4 separate regions of the Homo sapiens genome follow, and regions 2, 3 and 4 are each reported to be linked to region 1. Evidence: microRNA targets listed by miRTarBase, many of them from high-throughput screens and not tested one by one. Region 1 holds a microRNA gene; each other region holds the end of a gene's coding sequence.

Region 1 (7,115 bases):
AGAATGACTTGGAGGCAGTGAGAGTGTAGGAACGGATGGACTTGGCAGATTTTCTTTTCATTCTTACCATTTCAGGATAGAATCCAAAATCACTCAACACATAAAGCTGAGAAAATGTTAACTCATTCTTTCTTTTCCCCGCCTGACTTTATTGCCCGGGCTGGAGTGCAGTGGTCACATTTCAGCTCACTGCAACCTTGACCTCCTGGGCTCAGCTGATCCCCCCACCTCAGCCTCCTGAGTAGCTGGGACTACAGGTGTGCAATACCACGCCCAGCTATTTTTTAAAATTTTTATAGAGTCAGGATCTTGTTGGTCTCAAACTCCCAGACTCAAGCAATCCGCCTGCTACAGCCTCCCAAAGTGCTGGGATCACAGGTGTGAGCCACCCTACCCAGCCTAATTTTTTTTTTTAGAAACAAGGTTTTTCTCTGTTGCCCAGGCTGGAGTGCAGTGGTGCGATCTTGGCTCACTGCAGCCTTGAAATCCTGGACTCAAGAAAGCCTCCCTTCTCAGCATCCCAAGCAGCTAAGACTACAGGAATGTGCCACCATGCCCAGCTAACTTTAAAATTTTCTATAGAGACACGGTCTGGCTTTGTTGCCCAGGCTGGTCTCAAGTGATCCTCCTGCCTCAGCCTCCCAAAGTGCCAGGATTATAGGTGCAAGCCACTGCTCCTCACCAAAATGTGACTTATTCTTTTTTTTTTCTTTTTTGAGACAGAGTCTCACTCTGTTGCCCAGGCTGGAGTGCAGTGGTGCAATCTCAGCTCACTGCAACCTCCACCTTCCAGGCTCAAGCGATTCTCCTGCCGTAGCCTCCTGAATAGCTGGGACTACAGGCACGTACCACCACGCCTGGCTAATTTTTGTATTTTTAGTAGAGATTGGGTTTTGCCATGTTGGCTAGGCTGGTCTGGAACTCCTGACCTCAGGTGAGCCACCCGCCTCAGCCTCCCAAAGTGCTGGGGATTACAGGCATGAGCCACCATGTCCGGCTAAAACCTAGATTTTTAGAAAGGAATGAAGACCACTGGAAATGGTAAATACCTAGGTAAAACACCATTTTTTGCTTTTTTGTTTGTTTGGAGACAGGGTCTTGCTCTGTCACCCAGGCTGGAATGCAGTGGTGTGATAAGGGATCATGGCAGCCTCAACCTCTCAGACTCAAGTGATCCTCCCAACACAGCCTCCTGAATAGGTGGGACTACAGGCGTGAGCCACCATGCCAGCTAAGTTTTTAGAAATTTTTTGCAGAGACGGGGTCTATGTTGCTCAGGCTGATCTTGAATTCCTTGGCTCAAGTGATCCTCCTGCCTTGGGTCATGGTCACCAAAGTGCCGAGATCACAGGAGCCAACCCTTTCTGATGTCTATTTTTTTTTTTTTTTTGAGACAGAGTCTCACTCTGTCACCCAAACTGGATGGAGTGCAATGGTGCAATCTTGGCTCCATGCACCCTCCACCACCCAGGTTCAAGCGATTCTCCTGCCTCAGCCTGCCAAGTGGCTGGGATTACAGGCGCGCGCCACCACACCCAGCTAATTTTTTTGTATTTTTAGTACAGATGGGCTTCACCATGTTGGCCAGGATAGTCTTGAACTCCTGACCTCAGGTGACCCGCCTGCCTCGGCCTCTCGAAGTGCTGGGATTACAGGCGTGAGCCACCAACCTGGACTGCCTATTTCCTTGGGGTAATGAGTCCGGGAGTTTGCCACCTGATGTTTGAAGTAGCACCTCACAACTTCATTCTTCCTAAACTTGGTTTAAATTTCAAGGGGGCCGGGAGTGGTGGCTCACGCCTGTAATTCCAGCACTTTGGGAGGCTGAGGTGGTTGAATCACCTGAGATCAAGAGTTTGAGACCAGCCTGGCCAACGTGGTGAAACCTCATCTCTACTACAAATACAAAAATTAGCTGGGTGTGACGGTGTGCATCTGTAATCCCAGCTAGTTGGGAGGCTGAGGCAGGAGGATGGCTTGAACCCGGGAGGAGGAGGTTGCAGTGAACTGAAATTGCACCACTGGACGTCAGCCTGGGTGACAGAGTGAGACCCTGTCTCCAAAAAAAAAACTTTCAAGGGGATCCCATGTCAACAGAAAGGTTATAACACAGTTAAAGGAGAGGCCTGGTGTGCAGCCGCAGCTACACGAGCAGCACGTGCTGCAACCTGCTGCAAGTGACGAGCTGCCATCAGCGTTATTCGCAGTCTTCATTTCTGGAGGGCTAAGTTCCAACCTTCAGTCAGAACTCTTTTTTTTTTTTTTTGAGACGGAGTCTCGCTCTGTCTCCCAGGCTGGAGTGCAGTGGCACTATCTCGGCTTGCTGCAAGCTCCGCCTCCCGGGTTCACGCCATTCTTCTGCCTCAGCCTCCTGAGTAGCTGGGACTACAGGCACCCGCCACCACGCCCGGCTAATTTTTTGCAGTTTTAGTAGAGACGGGGTTTCACCGTGTTAGCCAGGATGGTCTTGATCACCACACCTCGTGATCCACCAGCCTCGGCCTCCCAAAGTGCTGGGATTACAGGTGTGAGCCACCAGGCCCGGCCTCAGTCAGAACTCTTTTAGTGACATCATTATCTTTAAAAAGCAAACAAGGTGGCCGGGCACGGTGGCTCAAGCTTGTAATCCCAAAACTTTGGGAGGCTGAGGAGGGCGGATCACCTGAGGTCAGGAGTTTGAGGCCAGCCTGACCAACATGGAGAAACCCCATCTCTACTAAAAATGCAAAATTAGCCGGGCGTGATGGCACATGCCTGTAATCCCACCTACTCAGGAGGCTGAGGTAGAAGAATCACTTGAACCCGGGAGGTGGAGTTTGCAGCGAGCTGAGACCGTGCCGTTGCACTCCAGTCTGCGTAACAATAGTGAAACTCCGTCTCAAAACAAAACAAAATAAAAAAAAGCAAACAAGGCTTTGGGAGGCTGAGGCAGGTGGATTGCTTCTTGTGGCCAGGAGTTCGAGACCAGCCTGACCAACATGGAGAAAACCTGTCTCTACTAAAAATACAAAATTAACTGGGTGTGGTGGCACACACCTGTAATCCCAGCTACTCAGGAGGCTGAGGCAGGAGAATCGCTTGAACCCTCGAGGGGGAGGTTGCAGTGAGCCGAGATCTCACCACTGCACTCCAGCCTGGGTGACAGAGTCAGACTCAGTCTCAAAAATAAATAAATAAATAAAAATTAAAAATTAAAAGCAAACAAAAAGGGTCACGTTTTACAAATCCAGCGTATCCCAGTCCGTTCTGCTGGCAGCAGCCCCAGGGCCCGCACACATGCCTAGGCAGACAAGACCGCACACGTGCAGGGACGCTGAGCTTCTGAAATGGCGGGGACCCGTGTCCTCCCTCCCTACGCCAGGGCAGCCACTCTATGACCTCGGCTCCTTCACAGCCCTGGCTGTAGCCTGAGGCCCCCGCATGGCGGGCATCCCCACCAGACGTTGGCGGACGAGAGCCCTGCTGACGCCAGCCCCTTCCCCCACCACACCCACCACACTTCCCGGTCCGACGCAGGACTACCTGTTCCCGGGCAGACACAGAGCACAGAGTGCCGGGTCCCACGTCAGCCCCTGACGCACCTGCCGTCTCTTCAACACCCTGCCCTGCTCCCTGCTGGCTGGAGAGCCCTCACTCAGACCCCAGAGCCCTGAGCCTGCTCTTGGGAACCTCCCCTGCCACACAGCCGGGTGCGTCCTCTTCCGTGGCGCTGTCCTGTGCGTCCTCTTCCGTGGCGCTGTCCCGGGCCCTGGGCACATGTCCACACAGCCGGGTGCGTCCTCTTCCGTGGCGCTGTCCCGGGCCCTGGGCACATGTCCACACAGCCGGGTGCGTCCTCTTCCGTGGCGCTGTCCCGGGCCCTGGGCACATGTCCACACAGCCGGGTGCATCCTCTTCCGTGGCGCTGTCCCGGGCCCTGGGCACATGTGCACACAGCCGGGTGCGTCCTCTTCCGTGGCGCTGTCCCGGGCCCTGGGCACATGTGCACACAGCCGGGTGCGTCCTCTTCCATGGCGCTGTCCCGGGCCCTGGGCACATGTGCACACAGCCGGGTGCGTCCTCTTCCGTGGCGCTGTCCCGGGCCCTGGGCACATGTGCACACAGCCGGGTGCGTCCTCTTCCGTGGCGCTGTCCTGTGCGTCCTCTTCCGTGGCGCTGTCCCGGGCCCTGGGCACATGTCCACACAGCCGGGTGCGTCCTCTTCCGTGGCGCTGTCCCGGGCCCTGGGCACATGTGCACACAGCCGGGTGCGTCCTCTTCCGTGGCGCTGTCCCGGGCCCTGGGCACATGTGCACACAGCCGGGTGCGTCCTCTTCCGTGGCGCTGTCCCGGGCCCTGGGCACATGTGCACACAGCCGGGTGCGTCCTCTTCCGTGGCGCTGTCCCGGGCCCTGGGCACATGTCCACACAGCCGGGTGTGTCCTCTTCCGTGGCGCTGTCCTGGGCCCTGGGCACATGTCCACACAGCCGGGTGCGTCCTCTCCCCGGACACGTCGGTGCCATCACAGCTCAGCATTCATTTGCTCAACAGTTACGATGCATCGATCACATGCCTCGCTCTGTTCTCAGAGCTGGGGACTCAGTGGTAACAAAATAAACCAAACAGGCAAAAATCTCCGCCTGCGGCAGCTTGCAGTTTAGCAGGTCCCTGCTCCTCAGAATGCAGCAGCTTGCAGTCTAGCAGGTCCATGCTCCTCAGAAGACTTAAAGATCTTCAGGGGTAAAAAAATAAAATAAAATACGTGTGTTCTTATTTCTGTACTTCCAGGTGCAATCTCAGTGTGTGCAGCAAACGTTTTATAAAAGAGCTGCTGCTGAACTCAAACTACTGTTGGGGAAAAACTGTGGCCAACTTTGTAAGAACAGATATGAAAACATCTTAAAAGGAAGTCTATTTTTGTTCTGTTTTAAATATTTTACTATGTATTATGTGAAATACAGAAAGAAATATATGGAACATATCAGCCGGGCGTGGTGGCTCACGCCTGTAATCCCAGCACTTTGGGAGGCCAAGGCGGGCGGGTCACAAGGTCAGGAGATCGAGACCATCCTGGCTAACACAGTGAAACCCCGTCTCTACAAAAATACAAAAACATTAGCCAGGCATGGTGGTGGGCGCCTGTAGTCCCAGCTACTCGGGAGGCTGAGGCGGAGAATGGTGTAAACCTGGGAGGTAGAGCTTGCCGTGAGCCGAGATCGCGCCACTGCACTCCAGCATGGGTGACAGAGCGAGACTCCGTCTCAAAAAAACAACAAAAAATATATGGAACATATAAATTATGACGCATAAACACCATGATCCCGTCTCTAATTTAAAAACTGGAAAATTATCAATAACTTGGAAGTTTCATTTTCCCCATATATACCTTAAATTCAATGCTATTCTCTTGCTTCTAAAAAATTACCTCATGTTTATCCCTAAACGCTAATTAGTTTTAATTTTTTGAGCTTAAAAATACGGCCTAGCACTGGATTTACTTTTCTGTAATCTGCTTTTTTTTTCCTTTGAGACAGGGTCTTGCTATGTTGCCCAGGCTGGCCTCAAACTCCCAGGCTGAAGTGATCTCCCACCTTCAGGCTCTGAGTAGCTGGGACTATAGGCACACAGCATCGTGCCTGGCTTGATCTGCTTCTGAAACGCCTACGTTCCTAAGATTCGTCTACACTGCAGATTGTAGCTACAATTCATTCATCTCCAGTGTGGTCACATTCTATTCTGTGAATAGACCACAACTGATCCATCCACTCTTGCACCGAAGGACATCTGGGCTGTTCTCAGCTTCTGTTACCACCAAGTTGCTTGGAACATTCCTGAGCAGCAGGCGCGGTGGGTGGCGAAGGGCGGACAGCGTGAAGCTGATGCAGCTACCGTGAGCAGCACAGACACTGGCAGGAGGAGTGGGCGACCGTCACAGCAACAAGCAACTGAGGCGTGAGAAGACAGGCAGTGCCCCCACTCCCTGGGAAATGCAAATTAAACCACAGAGCACTACTAGGTACACACCTATCAAAACTGCTTAAAAAATAATCCCAGAACTTTGGGAGGCCAAGGTGGGCAGATGGCTTGAGGTCAGGAGTTCAAGACCAGCCTGGTCAACATGGTGAAACCCTGTCTCTGCCAAAAAATACAAAAATTACCTCGGTGTGATGGCGCATGCCTGTAGTCCCAGCTACTCAGGAGGCTGAGGCAGGAAAATCGCTTGAATCCGGGAGGCAGAGGTTGCAGTGAGCCGAGATCGCGCCACTGCACTCCAGCCTGGGCGACAGAGCAAGACTCCATCTCAAAAAAAAATAATAATAATAAGGCTGGATGCAGTGGCTCATGCCTATAATCCCAGAACTTTGAGAGGCCAAGGTGGGCATGTCACTTGAGCTCAGGAGTTTGAGACCAGCCTGGACAACACAGCGAAACCCCATCTCTACAGAAAATACAAAAGTTCTGCATTTTTTGTATTGCACCTGCAGTCCCAGTTACTCGAGAGGCTGAGGCAAGAGAATCGCTTGAACCCAGGAGGCGGCGGCTGCAGTGAGCCAAGATCACACCATGTATTCCAGCCTGGGCAACAGAGTGAGACTCCATCTCGAAAAAAAGAAAAAAGCTAATTTTAAAAAAGTAATAGAAGCCAGGTGTTGTGGGAAGTCAGGGACCCTGAACAGATGGACCGGCTGGAGCTGTGGCAAAGGAACATAAATTGTGAAGATTTCATGGACATTTACCAGTTTCCAAATAATACTTTGATAATTTCTTAAGCCTGTCTTACTTTAATCTCTTAATCCTGTTATCTTCATAAACTGAGGATGTACATCACCTCAGGGCCACTATAATTGTGTTAACTGTACAAACTGTAAAACGTGCGTTTGAACAATATGAAATCAGTACACCTTGAAAAAGAACAGAATAATCGTGATTTTCAGGGAACAAGGGAAGACAACCATAAGGTCTGACTGCCTGTGTGGTCAGGCAAAATACAGCCATATTTTTCTTCTTGCAGAGAGCCTATAAGCGGACGTGCAAGTAGGGAAGATATCACTAAATTCTTTTCCTAGCAAGAATTAATACTCTGGGAAAGGAATGCATTCCTGGGGGGAGGTCTACAGAAGGCTGCTCTGGGAGT
Region 2 (7,115 bases), not on the chromosome of region 1:
GGCTCCTCACTTACCTCACTGACTCCCTTTATTTCCTGGGTTTACTTTCCCCATTAACACTGACATCTAAATCTCTAGAGGAGTATGTCATCCCTTCCTCCCTGGTTCCATATTCTAAGTTTCAGAATCATGATCTTTTTCTGCACTAACGTCCCACAGTCCTCAGAGTTTCTCACAGTTCATTGATGTGTACTGAGTATATAATTTATACTTAGCCCCCACGGCGGGGTGGTTCTCAGAAGTGGAAGACAGGTGGGTCTTTGGAGAACACGGTGGGAATCTTGGTGCACTGACTAACTTGATGGGCGCTTGGTTCCTCTTCCAGCCAGCTGAGGTGGGTGTCCTGGTTGGCAAAGACCGGTCAAGTTTTTACGTGAATGGGCTGACACTTGGGGGCCAGAAATGTTCGGTGATCCGGGACTCACTGCTGCAGGATGGGGAATTTAGCATGGATCTTCGTACCAAGAGCACCGGTGGGGCCCCCACCTTCAATGTCACTGTCACCAAGACTGACAAGAGTGAGTTCCTGAGTCTTACCCTTCCTTTAGCTCCAAGATCTCTAATGTACCGCCTTCTGGTAATCTTGAGGGTGCTTTTTTGTGTGATTCCCCAACATGAAGGGAGTCAGACCAGTATTGTGTTCCTTGTCTGCTGGATGCTGGAACACGGGATAGTCCCTCCATTCTGTCTCAGTTCCTCATCTTGTAATTCGAAGTTGCTGAACTGCATTACCTCTTAAATTACTTACTGCCTTGAGCTCGGATTAGAAACTGTTTTCTAGGAGTATAGGTAGATTGTTGGGGTCTTGAATCATCGAGTTCATCGTTTGAGTTCTTTTGTTAGAACCTGGAGGTGGCATGCACATCCACAGCCCTTTCTAGCCTGAACACATGAATCAACAGTCTATGAGCCTTTGACCCCTAAGTTTTTAGTCTGTTCCTCTCCAGCGTTTAAGCTTGATTTTCCTCTTTTGAAAAGCCTTATTGTTTCAGGGTGACTGACAGCCTGCCTGTGTGTGGTGGGGGGGCGGGTTGGGAGAGATGAGGTTGGGTTACAGCCCCCAGGGCTGGACAGCTGCTGAACAGCTGGCAGGGGGTGGAATTGTGACACCTGGATCCTAGCCTCCTTTCTCTTTCCTCCTCCTCCAGCGCTAGTCCTGCTGATGGGCAAAGAAGGTGTCCACGGTGGTTTGATCAACAAGAAATGTTATGAAATGGCCTCCCACCTTCGGCGTTCCCAGTACTGACCTCGTCTGTCCCTTCCCCTTCACCGCTCCCCACAGCTTTGCACCCCTTTCCTCCCCATACACACACAAACCATTTTATTTTTTGGGCCATTACCCCATACCCCTTATTGCTGCCAAAACCACATGGGCTGGGGGCCAGGGCTGGATGGACAGACACCTCCCCCTACCCATATCCCTCCCGTGTGTGGTTGGAAAACTTTTGTTTTTTGGGGTTTTTTTTTTCTGAATAAAAAAGATTCTACTAACAAGGTGCTGTGTGATTTGAGCTTGGGTGTCAGAATGGGGGATAGGCACTGTGACTTGCCTCCTTTATCGTGGCTTGGGAGCAGGGAGGTTGAGGTACTACAAGGTGCAGGAATTTGAGCTTCTGGCCAGGTGGCCCTGCCCCTCCACAGTGGCATTTCCAGGCCTAAGTCCTCAGTGTGCTGGTCAAATTGGTGGATGATGGAATAGAGCCATCTGGACCAGAGAATGGGTGCAGGCCTGCAGGCAAGGCAGGGCTAGTTGAGTCATCCTTGTGGGTGGGGCTCCCCCTTCTGAGTCATAGCAAATGCCGGCTGGGGCTGTCCCCATGACTATAGGTTAGTGTCTCTCAGCATTCCCTTGCTCCTTATGGCTAAAGGGGTGATTCCACCAAAGGGTTAAGTTCACCTGTGTGAGAATGATCTTACCCTTCCTTAGTCCACAAAGAAACAATTTTATTAGCCCAAGAAGTGAAGACCCAGTCCCTCTGCTTGCCCCAGCTCCACCCCAAAGCCCCTCAAAAGGATAGGTGTGGGTAAGGGAGAAGCTTGGGATGGAATGTCCCCTATCCCTCAGAAGACTGGAGGGAAGACGACGGTCTGTGCAAATAGGTCACCAGAGGTGTATGTGTGGGGGGTTATTAGACCAGGATAACAGGGGAAGAGGGAGGGGACAGTGGGGGATCTGTTGAAGGCCCAGGAAAAACAAGGGGAGCTGGGGCTAAGGAACCAAAGGAGGTGGGAAGAGTGGGGCTAGAACCCAAAAGTGGGGTCCTTTCTGAGGCAGGGTGGTCCCTTGGCTCCCCTTCATCACCCTCCTCTTGCCCTTGAGTTTCTTCCTCTTGGTCTTCGTCCCCAGGACCCCGATGAACAGGCTGCTTGCAAATGGGGCAGGTCTTCCGGGTCTGAGTGAGCCAGGGGTCCACGCAGCGGCTGTGGTAGGCTGCAGAGAGGAACAAGGTGAAGCACCTGGTGGCTGCTGGTGGCAGAGGGGCATGGGCAGGCAGTGAGGGCCTCACCATGAGCACAGGGGAGTACCCGCAGCTTGTCCCCATCCTCATATTCATCCAGGCAAATGGCACAGACATCATACTGGTCTCCTGGGACAGAAAGAAAATAATCTAGTCCTTCACTGAGCCACAATGACCCAGGGCTAAGGCTTTTAAAGCCTTGCAAAAATTTCCCCTCACCTACAAAGCCAGTGGAAGAGATAAGACAGGTAGGCAGGATAAGGTCAGGGCAGAACATGGAAGAATTTAGGGCTAGAAGGGACAAGCAAAGAGAAGCAGAGGTAAGAAGGGAAGTGGGTTTTTGGGGAGGTGTGAGGGTGGAGATAGGGAGTGGAAGGAACGGAAATGGGCAGGGCTTCTGCCACAGCCTTATACGGGCACTGGAGGCCCCAGGGCCTAAAGCCCCAGCCCCTTGGTACCGGTTTCTTCCTTCTCTAACTGAATCCTCCCCATTCCTCCCATTTTTCTGCTCTGTCCACATCCCCTATAAGCAAAGTCTATCCCTCTATTGTTTCCCACAATTATTTCACTTAATCATCTTTGCTTTCCATCTCCTCTCCCGTCTTCGTTGTATTTATGCATAAAAACAGAAGAAAAGACAGCATCTCAAGCTGAAACCTTCCTACTGCCATCTTTATTTTTATTATTATTTTTTTGAGAAAGGGACTCCCTCTGTCGCCCAGGCTGGAGCACAGTGGTGCAATCTCAGCCCCCGACAACCTCCGCCTTCCTGGTTCAAGTGATTCTCCTGTCTCAGTCTCCCAATTAGCTGGGACTACAAGTGCACACCACCATGCCCAGCTAATTTTATTTTTTTATAGAGATGGGGTCTCACCACATTGCCCAGGCTGGCCTGAACTCCCGGGGTCAAGGGATCCACTTGCCTCAGCCTCCTAAAGTGCTGGGACTTTTCTGTTTTATCATGTCACCCAGGCTGGTCTCAAACTCCTGGGCTCAAGTGACCTGCCCACCTTGGCCTCCCAAAGTACTGGGATTAGAGGCACTTGGGATTACGTGAGCCACTGTGCCCGGCCACTGCCATCTTTGTATACCCTATCTTCTGGGCTCAAAGTCCTTCAGAACCAGGTAAACTGTGGGAAAAGCCCTCTTCTCCCCTAACCCCCTCACCCTTCTGATAGTCATGTGTAGGAATCTGTTTCAGTTGCTCTTTGGTAAGTCGATTCCGCTGGAGCCGTTTCCGGTGCTGGATACAACGAGCTATCTGGGGGAAGCGGGGGTGGATGGACAAGGCTTAGGAACAAAACTAGACAATCTAGGACAAGCCACTCCCATCTCCCAACTCCAGATCCAGTCTGGCCTCACAGGCCTCAGTGCTTCCCATCATGTTCCCTCAGCTACTCACCATTACTGCTCCCATGGCCAAAACCAGCAGTCCCACAATCCCTGTGAAAGGGATGAGGTAATAGCCCAAGGGGAAGGTATTGTCTGGAACCAGAAGCACCCGAGCCCTGGGAAAAGGATGACCAGTCTCAGCAGGGCGAGAAAGGCAAAGGGAGAAAAAAAGAGGGACAAAGTAACTGGCTCTGGACAAAGCCCATAGGTGGGGACAGGAATGGGAAGAAAGTCAAAGAGGCAGGGAAGGAAGGACAGGAGGCTGAATGGTTCGGGTAATGAGGAGGCCTGGGCTCCAGGTTGGCATGGAACTGCTTGCTGAAGGAAGAATGGGAAGGAGGCACATGTCCTACCCCTTCTCGTAGACAAAGAGGGCACGCAGGTACTCGGAGCTTCTCTCCCCAATAAATACAGACGGGATCCAGATCTGCTGCTGGATTTCCTCTGCAGGGATCAAGGTGTTACTCTGGGGACTCACAACCTTCTACTCAAATCCTCTGGGAACCCTGGCATCTTGCACTTTGGCCCCACCCCACCTAAAGGATTGGCTTCTTTTCCTGAGGCCTTCAGCCTTCCCACCATCTCTGGGTCCTACTGAAAGCCCAGCTGTATAGATTCCCCCAGCCTTACCACTATTCCACACCATGTTCAGAAGTTCATTGGAATTCACATTGTGTACTACAGCGGCACCATATCCAGCCTTCTGGGCATTTAGGACCTAGGGAGACAAGGCAGAGGACAAGGAGCCATCATGGGCCTTACCTGTCTTCATTCCTGGTGCCTTTTTTTTACCCTCAGCTGCCCAGCTCCCCTTCCTCATTCAGCAACCTTGAGGTCAAAGTTGCAGTCGAATCTTCGAAGCAGCGCAATAAAGACTGACCCATTGACCGGGGCTGGGGGTGGTGGGGCAATGGGGCTGCAGGCATTGTCTGGGTGAGCCTCCACAAGGAACCCCTGAAGGATGGAAGCAAACAACAGTGAGATTTCTCCTTTCTAGATTCTGCTCTCTACAGGGGCCACCAAACACACCAGCCCACATGCTGCACATCCTCTATCCTCACTTCCTCCTCCTTCCTGGGGTCTGAGTGAGCATCCCACCATCACAACCTTCTCTTAGCCTCTTGAAAAGGCAATGACATAAAACATCCCTTCACCAAACTCTCCCATCATCCCTCTCGCTGTCCCAGATGGGCTAATCTGTACCCTATACTGCAAGCTAATGCAATTATTTTTGCCTTCTAATATTCCAATTGTAATTCAATTCTCAAACCACCCATGTCACTTTCTCTCAAGTTCTGTTTCACAGTCCCCTCTCCAGCACATACTCATACAGACACACTCCCCTCCCTTCAGTTTTCTTTTTGTTTTTCTTTTTTTTGAGATGGAGTCTCGTTTTGTCACCCAGGCTGGAGTGCAGTGGCGCGATCTCGGCTCACTGCAACCTCCACCTTCCGGTTTCAAGTGATTCTCCTGCCTCAGCCTCCCAAGTAGTTGGGACTACATGCGTGCACCATCACGCCCAGCTAATTTTTGCCATTTTAGTAGAGATAGGGTTTCTCCATGTTGGCCAGGCTGGTCTTGAACTGGGATTACAGATGTGAGCCACCGCGCCCGGCCTCTTCAATTTTCTAATTACCCATCTCACAAACAACTCGACTGCTACTAAGGCCCAACTGAGTTCTTGCTATGTGGCAGTCTTTGGGATGAAATACTACCAAAATTGCGTATCTACTTTGATCTTCACAATAACCCTAGGAAAACTTCTAATATCCCATTTTACAGTAAAACAAACTAAGGCTCAGAGAGATTAACTTGCCCAAAGTCATATAAGCAATAACTAGCACCTGAGACCTTCCTGATAAGGACCGTTGATCCTGCCTTCTGTCTTCGTCCACTTTCAGTCTCCCTGATAACCTCGGAGTTCCAGGGGTGGACACTCTGTCTTCTCCCTCTAGATTCTGGGTTCTACACTAGACGTGCTCAGTTCCTAACTTCATTTTCCTACCTCCAGTTTCACCCAGGACAAACCTCCCCAACCCCAGCCTAGGATGGAGGATCTTGCGAAATACTAAAAAAAGAAAAAAGACAGAAAAGGAAGGAAGGGAGGGAAGGAGGAAAAGAAAAGAAAGAAAATCACCTGGAGGCCCTCCTGGCTCAAGGTAGCCCCAAACAGAGCTGGAAGGTCTGCAAAGTCCATGCTGGCATTGTGGTCCGAGGTCTGCGGACAAAAAAGGCGATGTTCCCCTTCAGCCTGCAACCCTTCCTTTCAGCGCCCTTTCCCCATCCGTCCCTCAGACTCACCGCTCGAATGAGCCCCCGGGTCGGGGCCGCTCCCCACAGCACAGCGGCCACAACCACAGGAAGCGGGAAGGCTGCAGGGTGCATGGCAGCGGGAGGAAAGAGGCTGAGGAGGCCGCGCGTCCTGGTAGCAAGGAGCAGAAGCGGAGTTCTGCGCCCTCCCTGCCCCTCCTTTAGGATCCCAGGGGTCCAACCACCCCCAGGTCCCACTTCCCAGCTACATGGGGGCGCCGGGGAAGGAACACCAACTCAAAGAATGAGATATCCAACCCGTTTAGTGGAGCTGGGTGGGAGGCACTAAATGTATCCTTTTCTGGTACGGGGATAAAACGCGGAAAGGGGACGGAGCCTAACACAGGTGACAGAAAAACTTCGGGAAGGGTGGCGGAGCTCAAGGAGGTGGGACTTCCTGCTAGGTGGGCCGTGTTCCCAGCCTCTGGAAAAGGGCTTCCGGTAGAGAAAATCAGGCCGCTTTCAGCATTGGATGCTTGAGATGAAGGACTTCCGGTCCTAAAAGGCCGGTTAAAAAAAGGTTAGCGATGGAGGGACTGCCTGTGGAGATGGAAGGGGCACTGGTGGCCCAGAAGACGACCTAATAAAAGTGCCCGGAAACCCGGAGCCTCCTAGTTTACAAACCTCTCCTCCCTCTGGCCTCCGCCGCTCCTTCAAATCTCGCGAGAGTGCTCACCACCTCTCCCGTCCCCTCGCAGCTGAATAGTTGCTGTGTCTATCGCGAGAGCGCTCCAACTTGGCGAGCCGTACTCACTCGATCTCGCGAGACCTTCAAACAAACTCTTCTCTATTTTCCCGCGATTCTAATTCGGTGAAAACAGCGCCTTTCCTCTGGTTTCCAAATCAGTTACGCCCCTTCTCGCACGCTTCCATCAAGCTCCTCCTTCAGCTCCGCCTTACTCCCGGCCGCCTTTGCGCTGCGCGCCTGCGCCCGCGCCGGCTTCCAGCGGGTGT
Region 3 (7,099 bases), not on the chromosome of region 1:
GAGTCATTTCCAAAAAGGCTGGGTAAAACTCTTTTTTTTTTTTTTTTTTTTGAGACGGAGTTTCGCTCTTGTTGCCCAGGCTGGAGTGCAATGGCACGATCTCAGCTCACTGCAACCTCCGCCTCCCACGTTCAAGCAATTCTCCTGCCTCAGCCTGCCAAGTAGCTGGGATTACAGGCATGCACCACCACGCCTGGCTAATTTTGTATTTTTAGTAGAGATGGGGTTTCTCCATGTTGAGGCTGGTCTCGAACTCCTGAACTCGTGATCCACCCGCCTCGGCCTCCCAAAGTGCTGGGATTACATGCGTGAGCCACCGCACCCGGCCAAAACTCTTAAATATACAATACACACACCTGTACCTCCTCTACTCGAGGGGCTTCCTGTCATTGTTGTGTAGCTCCTCTGCCCTCTACCATACTGCTTGGTAAATTGCAATGACCTTTTTATTTTTCTTTTTTTCAATCAGCTCTCTCAGGTTGAAAAATTGTAGGGACTTTGCTACAAGTTTTTCAGTAGAGTAATTGAAAGAATGAGGGTTAATTTTCCTCCAATATGCTGGATTCACTCCAGGATCCTACTGCAGCAAAGAGGCTCCCACCCTGTTTCACCTCCTTCCATGGAGGGATGTGCAGCAGGCCCTTAAGGACAGGAGAACGCAGCGCCCTCCCCCCTTTTCTGTCCCAGACACACCTTAAGGATCTCATCTCCAACAATGATGATGCCAGCCGTCACGCTGCGCCCCGGAGAAAGTTCAGAGGCCCTAGATGTCATGGTCCTGCCTTCTCTGCCCCTCTGCAAGGCCCTCCAGTAGCCACCCAGACCCCCAAATAGGGGTCGCAAGCACGGGGGGCCTGCCAGGTCTACAGGGCACTGGGGGCCATAGCCTGGGAACAGGGGGTCCTGGGTCGAGGGAACCTGGAGAAGCCAGAAAAGACAATGGGGGAGAGCAGGCGTGCGCGTGCTTCCTTCGAGGAAGACCCTAGTCTTCTCTAACCAGATCCTTGACAAGCGACTCCTTTGTTCCTGCCTCTGGAATAAACGTGTTCCCAAATCCCAACCCATGTCCTTTTAAATGTCTTGCTTAGCTCTAGTCTTAAAAACTTCTTCTCTCTTGAGAACCTACCACTTTAAGTGTCTTCCGTTTGCTGAGCTGGTCTCCTCAAGTGTCTGCTCTACCTTGGGCATCCGTACCCCTTTAAATGTCTACCTTATCCTGGGCCTTGGCCCTTTTCAATGCATTCGCTCTCCACCCCGGACCAAAATCCCGTCTCTTTCTACTTCAGGCTTCTGCACCCTTTCTAGCCCAGAATCCCTTCTTCCCACCAAGCTTCAGATTACTGAGCCCTCTTAGACTCTCACCTGCCTGTTCTGCCCCTTCACCGGCTCTTTCCCTTGTTCCTTTCCTCATGTCCCGGGGCAGCTTCCGTACTTAAAGTCCCGCCTTGCACCTAGCTGACATTGAATGGTGATTTTGGCTGTCGCTTAGACTCTTCCAGGGTCCCATTGGTGTATTCAACTGTCGCTCTCAGGCTTTAGCCAGTGGATGGGAGCAGGGCCGGATTGTTATAGGCGACAACCACGTGGTCACTTCTCGCCCGGAAATACGGGGGCCGGACCTTAGCCCACGGTCGGGGGCGGGACCTCGGGAGTTTAGGGCGGGAAAGGAGCCGTAGTTAAAGGTGCTGTAAGGCCCTCGGGGAGTTTCTGGTGCTGGATTCAAATAATTGTTATGCATGTGTTGCTTTGTTTTGTTTTGTTTAATGGGTCAGTTAGCCATGGTTTAAGCTGTTTTCATTCACCGTGACTCTAACACTAGGCTAAGGGCTTTTACTGGAGTGAGAAAGCATCTTATTTATAGCAGAAGGAAGTTGGAGGGACACCGAGAAAGATTATTACCACTGTCTGTCGGATATGAAGACCCTGGAGTAGGTGAGCTTTTGATGTGTGGAACCTTAATTTATCTCTAGTATAGTAGACAAAACGAATTACTTAAATCTCTTTGACAAGAAAGAGTCCAAAAACCCTCTCTTCCTCCACCTTGCTCCAGATGGTGCTTAGTTCAAATGACCTTTCCCAGTAATTGGTCTTGTAGGTGCAAATGAGGCAGCGAATAGGGAGTGCCTTACATGTTTACTCTGGATCCTCACATCATCCGAGCTTACCCCCATTTCAGTTGCCTTTGTTCTAAAAGTACATCTTAAACTTTTTTCCAACAATAATCTGGGGATCTTTTCATATGCAGATTGATTCAGTAGGTTTGGGTGGGGCCTGAGATCTGCATTTAGCTAGTTCCCATGTGATGGTGATCCCACTGCTCTATGGACTACATTTTGAATGGTAAGGGCCCGAATTCATTCTTTGTTTTTTTGAGACGGAGTCTCCCTCTGTCACCCAGGCTGGAGTGCAGTGGCGCGATCTCGGCTCACTGCAAGCTCCGCCTCCCGGGTTCACGCCATTCTCCTGCCTCAGCCTCCCGAGTAGCTGGGACTACAGGCGCCCGCCACCATGCCCGGCTTTTTTTTAAAAATTTTTTTATTTTCATTTTTTTTTTAGTAGAGACGGGGTTTCACTGTGTTAGCCAGCATGGTCTCGATCTCCTGACCTCGTGATCCGCCCGCCTCGGCCTCCCAAAGTGCTGTGATTACAGGCGTGAGCCACCGCGCCGGGCCGAATTCATTCTTTGTAGGACTGGTAAACCACACCTTGCCAAATTTTACTCTTCAAAACCCTTGGTCGGGCGCAGCACTTTGGGAGTCTGAGGAGGGAGGATTGCTTGAGTTCTCTCAATTGAAAAAAAGAAAAAAAGGCCGGGCGCGGTGACTCACGCCTGTAATCCCAGCACTTTGGGAGGCCGAGGCGGGCGGATCACCTGAGGTCAGGAGCTGGAGACCAGCCTGATCAACATGGAGAAACCCCGTCTCTACTAAAAACACAAAAAATTAGCCGGGCGTGGTGGCGGGAGCCTGTAGTCCCAGCTACTCAGGAGGCTGAGGCAGGAGAATGGCGTGAACCCGGGAGGCGCAGCTTGCAGTGAGCCGAGATTGTGTCACTGCACTCCAGCCTGGGCGACAGAACGAGGCTCCATCAAAAAGAAAAAAAATACCCTGTAAGATACACATCATGCTCATTTTACAGATGAGGAACAGGCTCAGAAAGGTGAAGGGATGCCACACAACCACAAAACACAGTGAATGGTGGACCCAGGTGATCAGGTGTCTAGACCATTCTTTTAAGTAATAAGCCCCCCCTCCCTTTTTTTTTTTTGAACCAGGGTCTCTCTGTTGCCCAGGCTCGAGTGCAGTGGCGCAAGCACCGTTCACTGCAGCCTCGACCTCCTGGGCTCAAGTGATCCTCCCATCTCAGACTCCAGAGTAACTGGGACCACAGGGGCGCCCCACCATGCCTGGCTAATTTTTGTATTTTTAGTAGAGACGGAGTTTGGTCATGTTGCGCAGGCTGGTCTTGAACTCCTGGGCTCAAGTGATTCCCTGCCTTGGCCTCCCAAAGTATTGGGATTACAGGTGTGAGCCCCCGTACTTGGCCCTCATTTCTTTCAATTATAAAAAGTCAGCTCTTTGAAAAAAAAAAAAAGGGCAAAACAAGAATTCCACTTGCCTAGTAAACCACATGTTCCAATATCTTTATTAGCAATACAGGTGATATTTGATCCCCTCCCAAAACAGAATACCAAGACTGTTCCAGTATTTTCCTAGTGGATTCTCAAGCTTAAGTGTACATCAGAATCAGCTGGAGAGCTTGTTAAAACATTGCTGTGCCCAATCCTGAGTTTAGGATTCAGTAGGTCTAGGTTGTTGCCCAATAATTTGCATTTCTAATGAATTTTCCCGATGTTGATGCCTGCTATTTTAGGAATAAGTGGATGGAAGACAGGAAAAATGGGGGAGATTAATATCCTTACTTAGTACTAGTATTTTTTTTTCTTTTTTTTTTGAGGCGGAGTCTGGCTCTGTCGCCTAGGCTGGAGTGCAGTGGCGCAATCTCGGCTCACTGCAAGCTCCGCCTCCCGAGTTCACGCCATTCTCCTGCCTTAGCCTCCCGAGTAGCTGGGACTACAGGCGCCCACCGCCTTGCCCAGCTAATTTTTTTGTATTTTTAGTAGAGACAGGGTTTCACCATGTTAGCCAGGATGGTCTCGATCTCCTGACCTCATGATCCGCCAGCCTCGGCCTCCCAAAGTGCTGTGATTACAGGCGTGAGCCACGACGCCCGGCCACTTAGTACTACTGTTTTGTTAGACTAGAGGGGAAGTTATTATTCTGTGGAATGTTTTTTTTTTAAATTGAGACACAGCTTCTGTCGCCCAGGCTGAGTGCAGTGGTGTGATCTTGGCTCACTTTCACCTCTGCCTCTCGGGTTCAAGCGATCCTCTCACCTCAGCCTCCTGAGTAGCAGGGATTACAGGCACACACCACGCCCGGCTAATTTATTTTTATTTTTTTGAGACAGAGTTTCACTCTTGTTGCCCAAGCTGAAGTGCAATAGCGTGATCTCAGCTCACTGCAACCTCTGCCTCCCAGGTTCAAGTGATTCTCCTGCCTCAGCCTCCGGAGTAGCTGGGATTACAGGCGTGTGCCACCACGCCCGGCTAATTTTGTTTTAGTAGAGATGGGGTTTCACCATGTTGGCCAGGCTGGTTTCAAACTTCTGACCTCAGGTGATCCACCCACCTCAGCCTCCCAAAGTGCTGGGATTACAGGCATGAGCCACTGCACCCAGCCTAATTTTTGTATTTTTAATAGAGACGGGAGTTTCACCATGTTGGCCAGGCTGGTCTCGAACTCCTGACCTCAAGTGATCTGCCCTCCTTAGCCTCCCAAAATGCTGGGATTACAGGTGTGAGCCACCACGTGTGGCCTGGAATGTTTTCTTAAACAGCTACATTTTGCACCTGTTTTCTCAAAGCTTAGTTCTTTACCTACCTGCATAAGATGCCTGAAATCTTTACCCCCAGTCCACACTCCAGACCAATTAAGAATCCTTAAGAATGACTCAGGCAGGCATCAGTACTTGTAAAGCTCCCCAGGTGATTCCAACGCCCAAGCCAAGTTAAGAACAGCTGAAAACCTTCCCCAACCAAGGGGCACAGTGAATAGGTCATAGATATGCCTATTATTCCTATTAGGAATTGGGACACACAAGCAGCCCCTGACTGACAGCATCCTTTTATCCATGTGTGCCATTCAAATATTGGGACTATGTTAAAGGCAGCACCCCGACTGTAGGAAGCAGTTCATTTGTTTGGATGAGATGAAGTTGTCCCTATATAACCTCTACCTCAGGCTAGTAGTTAGAGTGAAATATATTTCAGTAGATGTTTGACAGCAAGTCTGCTTAAAGTAGATTAAAAACCAGTTATCTCAATGTTAAACCTCATTATCAGCAAAGAGCTGAGCTTCATTATCAAACTGAAGGGCATATAATTAGAACCATGATATTGATGATGCTCACCCTGAGTGAGGGGGAAAAAACCCGTACAATTACAGCACTAGATTATAAAAACTTCCTCTTTAATCAAGGCTTTTAACATGAACAGATTTCTTGAATAAAATGGAAAGTTTCCAGTACACTGAAACATAAATCCGCAAGTCACCACACATACAACACCCGGCAGGAAAAAACAAAAACAGCAAGTTTACATGATCCCTGTAACAGCCATGGTCTCAAACTCAGATGCTTCCTCCATCTGCCAAGTGTGTTCTGGATACAGAGCACATCGTGGCTTCTGGGGTCACACTCAGCTTAGGCTGTGGGTCCACAGAGCACTCATCTGGCTGGGCTATGGTGGTGGTGGCTCTACTCAAGAAGCAAAGCAGTTACCAGCACATTCAAACAGTGTATTGAACATCTTTTAAATATCAAAGTGAGAAACAAGAAGGCAACATAATAATGTTATCAGAAAGATGTTAGGAAGTAAGGACAGCTGTGTAAAGCTTGAGGCTGAAAAGTAGCTTGCCAGCTTCATTTCTTTGGTTTCTTGGGTAGTGGGCGCCGGAACAGCAAGATGTGAGGTTCTGAAAGAGTGAGGGAAATCTAAGAGACAAGCTCACACCATTCTATGTACAACCTATAGTGTATTCCACTACCACCTCCCCAGCTATCACCCACTCAGATCTTTATAACTAAATAAAGACTTAAGCATATGGCCTTAGAAGCAGACCCAGAAGTCTGGACTGTCTGCCAAGTACAGAATTGTTAATATCAGTTCTTTTGCTATGTTTATACAGCCCCAGGGTGTCCCTTATTAGTTTTGCCTGGCAGCTGGGTGTCTGGTGTCTTATCAATAAATATACTTTCCTTTGCTTATTTAGAACACATCCAAGAATGTTTTCGATGGAGAATGAGGCAGGGGCTATGATCAGGCTATATGTGGCCTTAAAAAGAATACCCTCTGATTGAATGAAAGATTACAGGAGGTTTTTCAGTGACAGGTTGTCTCTGAACTTCCCAGATATTTTAGTCTTATTTTTGGTCACTAGTTTTTTTTTAAAAAAATCCCCCACGACTGGAGGGGGAAGGAACCAGTAAACCATTTCCTATCTCCCTATTTGGGTTATACAATCTTATTCTTTCATTCTCTCAGTGTAGCAGTTCTATATGGTTGTTTTTAGCCAGTGCACTGACCTGGTTCATGGATCATATAATGGACCCATCCCTGACTCTGCTGAACGCCAAGATTCCTCCATTCAGATTCAGACATCAGATGGGTTTTAGGGACCAGCTTGGCTATGTCCTTGGGCAGCATGACATGTCTGTAACAGAAACGGGGAAGTGGGGAATTTATGTTAGTACCAGATACAGTCTCTTAGACAAATGCCTGTTTACAAGGCCAAGAAAGGAAAGAAAAACTGGTTTTTGATGTCAGAGTTTATATAATTTTATTGTGGGGTAGCAGCAGCTAGAAATACAGGCTATGTTATATAAATTCCGAGAGTATATTAAAAATACAAATTAGTGAATAATTCCAGTGAATGAGCACTTAAGTTCAAGGCACATTTTCTCCGCCTTCATGGACCTTATAGTCTTCTAGTTGATTATCTACAACATAATGGGAGCCCCACGGAGCACACAGTGTTAA
Region 4 (7,106 bases), not on the chromosome of region 1:
ACCAGCTCCATGCTGCTGACCAGGCTGGAAGATGGGGTGCCCGGGGTGCTTGTCTCTGATGCTTTCTCTGTGCCAGGGGTCACTAACTCATGAGTCCGCCGGGCCCCACGGGTCAAGCAGCTGCCCCCTGGTGCAGCTGCTTCCTGCTTGGCTGACTCCCATGTGTGCCTGGGGCCTCCAGCTCCTCTGGCAGCTAGGAGCTTGAAGTTGAGTGTCAAATTCCCCATGAGCCAAACAAAACCCCACCTGGAAGCCAGTCTTGGCTCACAGGAAGCTGGGATTTATCCCGCGCTGCAGGCCTCTCCTCCACAAATGAGATTCAGCGTGGTGGCTCCAGCCAGCGCTGTACACGTGCTGCTCAGGCAGCTGCCTCTCCCACCAGGGCCTTTGCCTGAACCCTCCTGGTACATCCCCATCTGCCTCATGCCCAGTTCAGGTGCCCCCTGCTCTGGGAAGTGGCTCCCTGGTACAGAGGGGGCATTCCATAAATGCTTGAAGAATAAATCAACAAGCAGGCGAGGGCAGTGCCGCTGTAACCTGTGTGTCTGGTGTCTCCAGGGCCTGGAGTCCCTCGGCTGCATCCGGAAGCGCTGGCTGAGAAAGCCAAGGCCTGTCTCGCTCTTCTCTACACCCGTGGTGGAAGAGGTGGAAGTGCCCTCCAGCCTGGACGAGAGCCCCATGGCTTTCTATGAGCCCACCTTGGACTGTACCCTCCGGCTGGGCCGTGTGTTCCCCCACGAGGTCAACTGGAACAAGTGGATCCACCTCTAGGACCCCTGTGGGCGTCCCCTCCCTCCCAGCCACCGCCTGCCACACCACTCCTGCCTGGTGCTCGGCAGACCCCACTGTGCCCTGGCCTTGGGTCTGCCGAGCCTCCTGCAGCAGGGGACGGGTGCTTTGGCCAGAGTCACAGACTGACACGTTTCCCACTGTACTGGAACTCTGGAAAGAGGGGCTCCCCGACCTGCCCATCCCCCAGGCTCTTCTGGGCCTTCCCCTTGGGAACTGGCCTCATCACACTGGGAGTTGGTGCTTCTTGTCTCTGGGTCTCCAGAGTTTGCCCCGCCTGTGCACACCTCACATTCCAGACTCTAGCCATCTCGGCAGGATCTCCTGGCTCCTTGAGTGCCCAGGTGCCACCAAGAGGAAGGGCCTTGTGGGATACACCTTGCAGAATAGGGATCGGTGTGCCCCGCTGCGAGGGGCCCCCCATGGGGGCTGTGGCCCCTCCGCAGGCAGGACATCCCAACCCCTGGCTGGGACTGAACCACCCAGAGCGGAGCGGCTCCCTTTTCAGCCTTGTGAGTCACCTGGCAGGCCCCAGCTGGGCTGGCTGTCCGTGTCCCTCAGCCTGGCTGGTGATTCCTTGCAGGCCAGAAATGAAGAGTCCCTGTAGGTTTTGGTTTTGTTTGTTTTATTTTGTTCTTTCACCTTTTTTCCTCATTAAAAAAAAAAAGTCCCTGTGGAGTGTACTTATTTATTTTTTGATTAAAGGGAAGTAAAATGCATTCTGTTTTGTGTGTTTCCTAAAGAATCAGTGATTCCCCTAGGGGACTCCCTGCTTTGGCTGCAGAACAACCTGGAATGGCTGTTCCCATTGAAACCAAAGGAAGAGGGAAGGCCCTGATCCTAAGCTCGGCAGCCCCGCCCAGCCTCAGCCAGCAGGTGAGAGATGGCCTCCAGGATGGAGAGGGGCACAGGCAGCTCCCTCACCACCTTCTCAGCTGGTCCCAGGCCTGTCCCCCACAGAGCAGCTCCCAGCCCAGTGCCAGGCCCACGATCAGCTCAGCTCAGCACAGCTGGTGTTGGCAGGGCCTGCGGGATGGGTCTGGCCCCTTGAAGTTCTCTTGAGCTCACATTGTTACATTTTTTTAAGTTAGTTGCCAACATTTTTAAAATGTAGAGTTCACATTTTTTTAAAAAAAATTCAGATTTCTGTCTTCTCTTAAAATGGAAAGTTCCAGTAACAATGGGCTTAGCTTCCTGCCTGTGGCAGTCAGAAGTGCTAAGCAGAGGCCACTCCCTCTAGGTGGGATGTGCCCCGACCTGGCCAGCTGTGTCTCACACCCACCTGCAGCTTCTCTCACCTAGAAAAGTGTCCCCTCTGGGGAACATGTACCCCTGACCTGACCCACCTTCCAACCTATGTCTCCATCCTCCCTCTACGAGGGACCAGGGCCCTGGTCACTCTGGGCCACACTTCTGGATGAGGAGGGACAAAGGCAGGGACTTGGGAGTCAGAGTCCTGAGAGTGAGTCCCCGCACTGCCTAGCCTGGTCAGGTCTTAGTGTCTATTTTTTTTCCCTTTAAAGTTTCATTCAAGTGTAGAAACAATAGTGTTCTATGGGATTTTTTGAGGCAATCAAGTAGAATAGTGGATGTGGTCTGCTTCATAAATAAAATACTGTACAAATACTAATTATTTGGGAAAGTGTGGCATGGTGGAAGAAAGGTTTGGGAATCCAGTAAGTGTTTCCTAAAAAACTGACCCTGCATTCACATTTCAGAGCCTTCGTTTTGTCGTCTGAAAACTGGGGGAAGAGTATCTCCCTCAAGGGAGGGCCAGATGAGCTGAAGAGCACCGGATGCAAGTGCATAGTCGGGTTCAGCAAGTTTCCTTCTTTGCCTGTGCCTCCCAGATGATGGAGAGTGTGGGCATGTGTTGGGAGATGGGACATAGGGATGGTGGGGACAGCTCTCAGATGGTGAAATGGGGCTTCTGTGAACACCAGTCCACATCCCCATTCTGCCCAAGGATAATCTGTTGCTTCTTCCCCTCCCTCCTACCCATCATGAAGCCCCTCATCTGCCCACCCATCTGTCCATCCATCCATCTGCACATCCATCCACCCAACTATCCACCTACCCATCCATCCATCCATCCATCCATCCATCCATTCGCCCATCCATCCACCCACCATCCATTCATCTGTGCATTCATCTACACATCCATCCACTCATCTGTCCATCCATCCATCCATCCACCCACCTACCCATCCACCCATTCATTTGTCCATCTGTCCATTCATCCACCTACCCATCCATTCATTCATCTGTCCATCCATCCATCTACCCATCCATCCATCCATCCTTCCAAGACAGCTCTCTGCCCCTCCAAGCTCTGCACAGAAATCTCCAGAAGCCACAGCATTGACCAGTAGTTGTGAGCTGAGATGCCTTCAGGGGCCAGGCAGGTAACAAATGAGAGGAAAGGGGCCTTGGGTTAAATACTAGGGAGTGATAGCAACTGTGGAAAACTAAAATGTGTATGCCCAGGCTGTGAAGGAATGCAAATTTGAAAGAAACATTAAGCACTAACTACCAAACAAAACCTACGAAGGGGCAAAAATGGGTCTCTGGCCCTTTTGCAGCTGCCAGAACAGTGCTAGGTGGTGGCTCCTGGTCTCCTGCAGAGAGGCCAGGGAATGCACAGCCCAGATGGGCACCTGCACGAGGCCCGGACACCTTGGCTTTGTGTCCCCAGCTTCCATATACCCCCCAGTCTTGCCCTCCTCACTCTTAATTCTTTTTTCTTTTTCTTAGATAAGCAAATACATGAATGCATTGTCTGTTAAATACAACATTTCAAATCTGGCTAAAGCCTGTGGGCCCCTCTCCTTCAGGGCCCCTCCCACTTTCCCTCTTCCCATTTCCATCCATATCTGTCTGTGCACGCCCTGGGAAGCCCGGGCCTGTAACATAAAACACGCCCTCAGCACGGCTCACTCACCGACCCCCTGGCACATCTGCATCAGCATGCCTATTATGGGAGTGTTTTGAGGAAGTAGCCAAAGCTTTAGTGGAAAACCACCCAGGAAAGCTTCACCAGAGAGTCCTTCTCCACTACAGCAATGCCCCTGCTCACTCCTCATCAAACAAGGGCAATTTTGCAAGCGTTTCCATGACAAATTATTAGGCACTCACCTTATAGTCCTGATATGGCTCCTTCTGACTTCTTTTTGTTTCCTAAAAAAGAAAAAAAAAACTTTAAAGGGCACTTTTCTTCAGTTAATAATGTAAAAAGATGGCATTGCCATGGTAAAATTCCCAGGACCCTCAGTTTTTCAGGGAGGGGCTGAATGGCTGGTCTCATCGCCCACCAAAGTGTCTTGACCTTGATGGAACTTATGTTGAGAAAGACAGTTTGTTTCTTATTTTTAATCTTTGAATTCATTTTCCATGAACTTTTTTTTTTTCTTTTTCTTTTTCTTTTCTTTTTTTTTTTTTTGAGACAGGGTTTCGCTCTTGTTGCCCAGGCTGGAGTGCAATTGCGTGATCTGGACTCACTGCAACCTCCGTCTCCCGAGTTCCAGCGATTCTCCTGCCTCAGATTCCGAGTAGCTGGGATTACAGGCATGCGCAACGACGCCCGGCTAATTTTGTATTTTTAGTAGAGACGGGGTTTCTCCATGTTGGTGGTGTGAGCCACCGCGCCCGGCCTCCACAAACGTTTTGAAGTCGCGAATGTGTGTATCTGTGCACATACATGCTGTGTATGTATGTATTTGTGTGTGGGCATGTGTGTGTGTGAGTGTGCATGTATGTGCCTGCGTGGAGTCTCCCTCCTTACCTCCAATGCCCAACGCAGGTCCATCCACCCAAAGGGTAGAAGTCAGCCTTTGTTGAATTAAGCAAACCCCTGCCAGTTCACCCTGTCCTCATCGCCCGTATTCTCTACCGCAGAGGGCTGCTGTGGTGATTGTCCAGGGTCCCCTTTATAAGCGCCAGGCAGATGCACTTCTGTGGCCCTTTCCCCCTGGACAGCAGAGCGAGCGGGCACTGCCTTCAGCCGACACCTGCATATTGCAGTGCTTACCAGCAGGTGGCAGCAGCCACCCAAGCGTCTCTGTTTCCCATTACTTCGCCTTGGTTTCCAAATGTCAGGTGCTCTTGGTCCATACAGGCTCCAGGGTGAGGCCAGTAAGAACTGACTGGGGCAGGGCATGACTTATCCATAAAATGGATGATATCCTAGCAACAAGATTTCCTGAGCATCTGCCAGATGCCAGACACTGTTCTGGGCACATTACACACATTAACTTCTGGCCCCACAATAGCCCTAAGACGTCTGCCTGATCAGTATACTCATTTCATAGATGAGGAAGCTGAGGTGCAGGAGGTAAAATCATGTCCACAGGGCTGGAGGCTGGAAAGCGGATCTGCTGGTATTCCCAGTCTGCCAGCCTCAGGGACCTCCCCATCACACCGCCTTCCAGGGATGGGATTTGTTTTGGGGTGGGGGGGGAGCCAGCATTGTGCTGGGAGACTCCCTAAAGAGTAGGATGAAAGGGTTTCTTATCTGGGGTCATCAATTTTTTTTTTTTCTTTGAGACAGAGTCTCACTCTGTCGCCCAGGCTGGAGTGTAGTGGTGCGATCTCGGCTCACTGCAACCTCCGGCTCCTGGATTCAAGTGATTCTCCTGCCTCAGCCTCCAGAGTAGCTGGGATTACAGGCGCCCACCACCACACCTAGCTAATTTTTGTATTTTTAGTAGAGACGGGGTTTTGCCACGTTGGCCAGGCAGGTCTCGAACTCCTGCCCTCAGGTGATCCACCCACCTCGGCCTCCCAAAGTGCTGGGATTACAGGCATGAGCCACCACGCCTGGCCTGGGGCCATCGATTTTTGAAAGAACCTTCACATTTGTCACCCTTAGACACAGGGGGAAGACCTATGATTGCCCCATGGTCTGAGCAATGAAGGAAGGGCTCTTGCTCTCATTACAGACTCCCCAGGAGGCGGCCTGTTTTCATCTCCACACCTCATTCTGTGCCCTTTCTAGGTCTGGGGCAGATGGTTGCCTCCTCTCTCCATACTGCTTTGCCAGTCACTGCTCTACCATTGATTGATTCATTCATTCATTCACTTATTCAATATTTTTTAGCACCTGCTCTATACCAGGCACTATTCTAGGCTCTGAGACCCAGCGGAGAATTAGATCCCTGCTGTAGTGGCGATAGACAGTAAATATGATGGATAAATAACACAAATGTATGAGAAGGTATAATAAGTGTGATGGAAAAAACAAAACCAGGCAGTGGGGTGTTGCACTTTGAATAAAGGACCCAACCCAGAGTGGAGAAGGTGACGTCCGAGCAGACTTGACTCCATCCTCTCATCTTACACGAATGCGTGGGTGTTTCCTGATGGCAGACAAGTCCTCTCCTTGTTCTTTCCTGTCGAGAGTTTAAAGGAAGCGCCTGCTTTCTTTCCTGTCGAGAGTTTAAAGGAAGCGCCTGCTTCCTTTACTGTCAGTGGAATGGGCTCCTGGGAGGGGCAGTGCACGTGCTCACTGCTCCATCTTCCACCGGAAGTCCCCTTCTTGGGTTCCACCGGTGCCCTGGGACTGGGTGGGCTGTGCAGGGTTGTGCCATACCATGGGGCCAGCAGCCGGGCTCAGGCAAACAACATCCCCAGATAGGAGGGAGGAAGGGGCTTTCACCTCCAGCGGGGGGACCAAAAGGAGCTCAGGAATGGGGCAGAGCATGATGGACTCCAGGCAAATCACTGCCTTTTTCTGGGCCTTCACTTCCCTCTGTCTCCTTCCCTTGTTAGAGCATCTGGGACCCCCAGACAGCATCCCAGGCTGAGATCTCGCAGGAACTGTTGATGGTTGGAGAGCTGGGGTTATGTGTTCGTTGAATCCCAGCAGAAAGCAGTGCAAGCTTCAAGGCATCTGGAGGGAAGCATTTATGAACTCTCTGGGAAGGAGATTGGGAAGGGCTGGGGCCACAGCCCTCTTCTCCTCTGACCTGGAGCCTAGCTCAAGGTGATGATAGAAAGACAACGCACCTCTGGCCGGGCGTGGTGGCTCACGCCTGCAATCCCAGCACTTTGGGAGGCTGAGGCGGGCAGATCACTTCAGGTCAGGAGTACGAGACCAGCCTTGCCAACATGGTGAAACCCCGTCTCTACTAAAAATACAAAAATTAGCCAAGTGTGGTGGCACGTGCCTATAATCCCAGCTACTCAGGAGGCTGAAGCAGGAGAATTGCTTGAACCTGGGAGGCGGAGGTTTCAATGAGCAGAGATCACGCTATTGTACTCCAGCCTGGGTGACAGTGTCAGACTCTGTCTAAAAACCAAACAACAAAAACAAAAAACAA

What was found. Region 1 holds the annotated microRNA hsa-miR-941 (CACCCGGCUGUGUGCACAUGUGC, at 4,228-4,250, opposite strand). A microRNA usually pairs through its seed, bases 2 to 8, with sites in the 3' UTR of a target mRNA and lowers its output. Matches are read on the target gene's strand: a 7mer-m8 pairs with bases 2 to 8, a 7mer-A1 pairs with bases 2 to 7 and ends in A, and an 8mer does both.
Region 2: miRTarBase lists PFN1 as a target of hsa-miR-941. The part of its 3' UTR that is shown has no 7-base or 8-base seed match.
Region 3: miRTarBase lists CKS1B as a target of hsa-miR-941. Seed matches in the 3' UTR shown: 7mer-m8 at 5,627-5,633.
Region 4: miRTarBase lists GTF3C1 as a target of hsa-miR-941. The part of its 3' UTR that is shown has no 7-base or 8-base seed match.

Annotation. Positions count from the first base shown.
Region 1 is chr20:63,916,742-63,923,856 of GRCh38, reverse strand. It overlaps MIR941-3 (microRNA 941-3), which reads right to left and starts at 4,296; the gene lies at 4,225-4,296. The region is part of intron 1 of DNAJC5 (DnaJ heat shock protein family (Hsp40) member C5); the gene reads right to left. LOC124904951 reads right to left here and starts at 6,098. Exons shown (of 1, transcript XM_047440634.1): 1 at 3,422-6,098. The coding sequence starts at 4,457. The coding sequence ends at 3,519. MIR941-1 (microRNA 941-1) reads right to left here and starts at 4,408; the gene lies at 4,337-4,408. It also overlaps MIR941-2, MIR941-4 and MIR941-5. RefSeq lists an enhancer at 3,401-4,103.
Region 2 is chr17:4,940,031-4,947,145 of GRCh38, reverse strand. It overlaps PFN1 (profilin 1), which reads left to right. Exons shown (of 3, transcript NM_005022.4): 2 at 326-518; 3 at 1,149-1,494. The coding sequence ends at 1,246. RNF167 (ring finger protein 167) reads right to left here and starts at 6,878. Exons shown (of 10, transcript NM_015528.3): 1 at 6,786-6,878; 2 at 6,153-6,659; 3 at 5,989-6,069; 4 at 4,680-4,805; 5 at 4,482-4,569; 6 at 4,205-4,295; 7 at 3,862-3,967; 8 at 3,627-3,720; 9 at 2,508-2,588; 10 at 1,924-2,431. The coding sequence starts at 6,236. The coding sequence ends at 2,130. SLC25A11 (solute carrier family 25 member 11) reads left to right here and starts at 7,100. Exons shown (of 8, transcript NM_003562.5): 1 at 7,100-7,115. RefSeq lists enhancers at 707-786, 1,457-1,626, 1,687-1,776, 1,787-1,836, 2,707-2,756 and 3 more and a silencer at 6,434-6,628.
Region 3 is chr1:154,977,661-154,984,759 of GRCh38, reverse strand. CKS1B (CDC28 protein kinase regulatory subunit 1B) reads right to left here. Exons shown (of 3, transcript NM_001826.3): 2 at 6,646-6,773; 3 at 5,509-6,035. The coding sequence ends at 5,983. It overlaps FLAD1 (flavin adenine dinucleotide synthetase 1), which reads right to left and starts at 1,416. Exons shown (of 7, transcript NM_025207.5): 1 at 694-1,416. The coding sequence starts at 1,065. RefSeq lists a silencer at 1,504-1,683 and enhancers at 1,566-2,163, 2,764-3,361.
Region 4 is chr16:27,455,015-27,462,120 of GRCh38, reverse strand. GTF3C1 (general transcription factor IIIC subunit 1) reads left to right here. Exons shown (of 37, transcript NM_001520.4): 37 at 559-1,508. The coding sequence ends at 771. Among named protein-coding and RNA genes, the nearest start is that of IL21R-AS1, 5.2 kb to the right of the region's middle. RefSeq lists an enhancer at 5,020-5,069.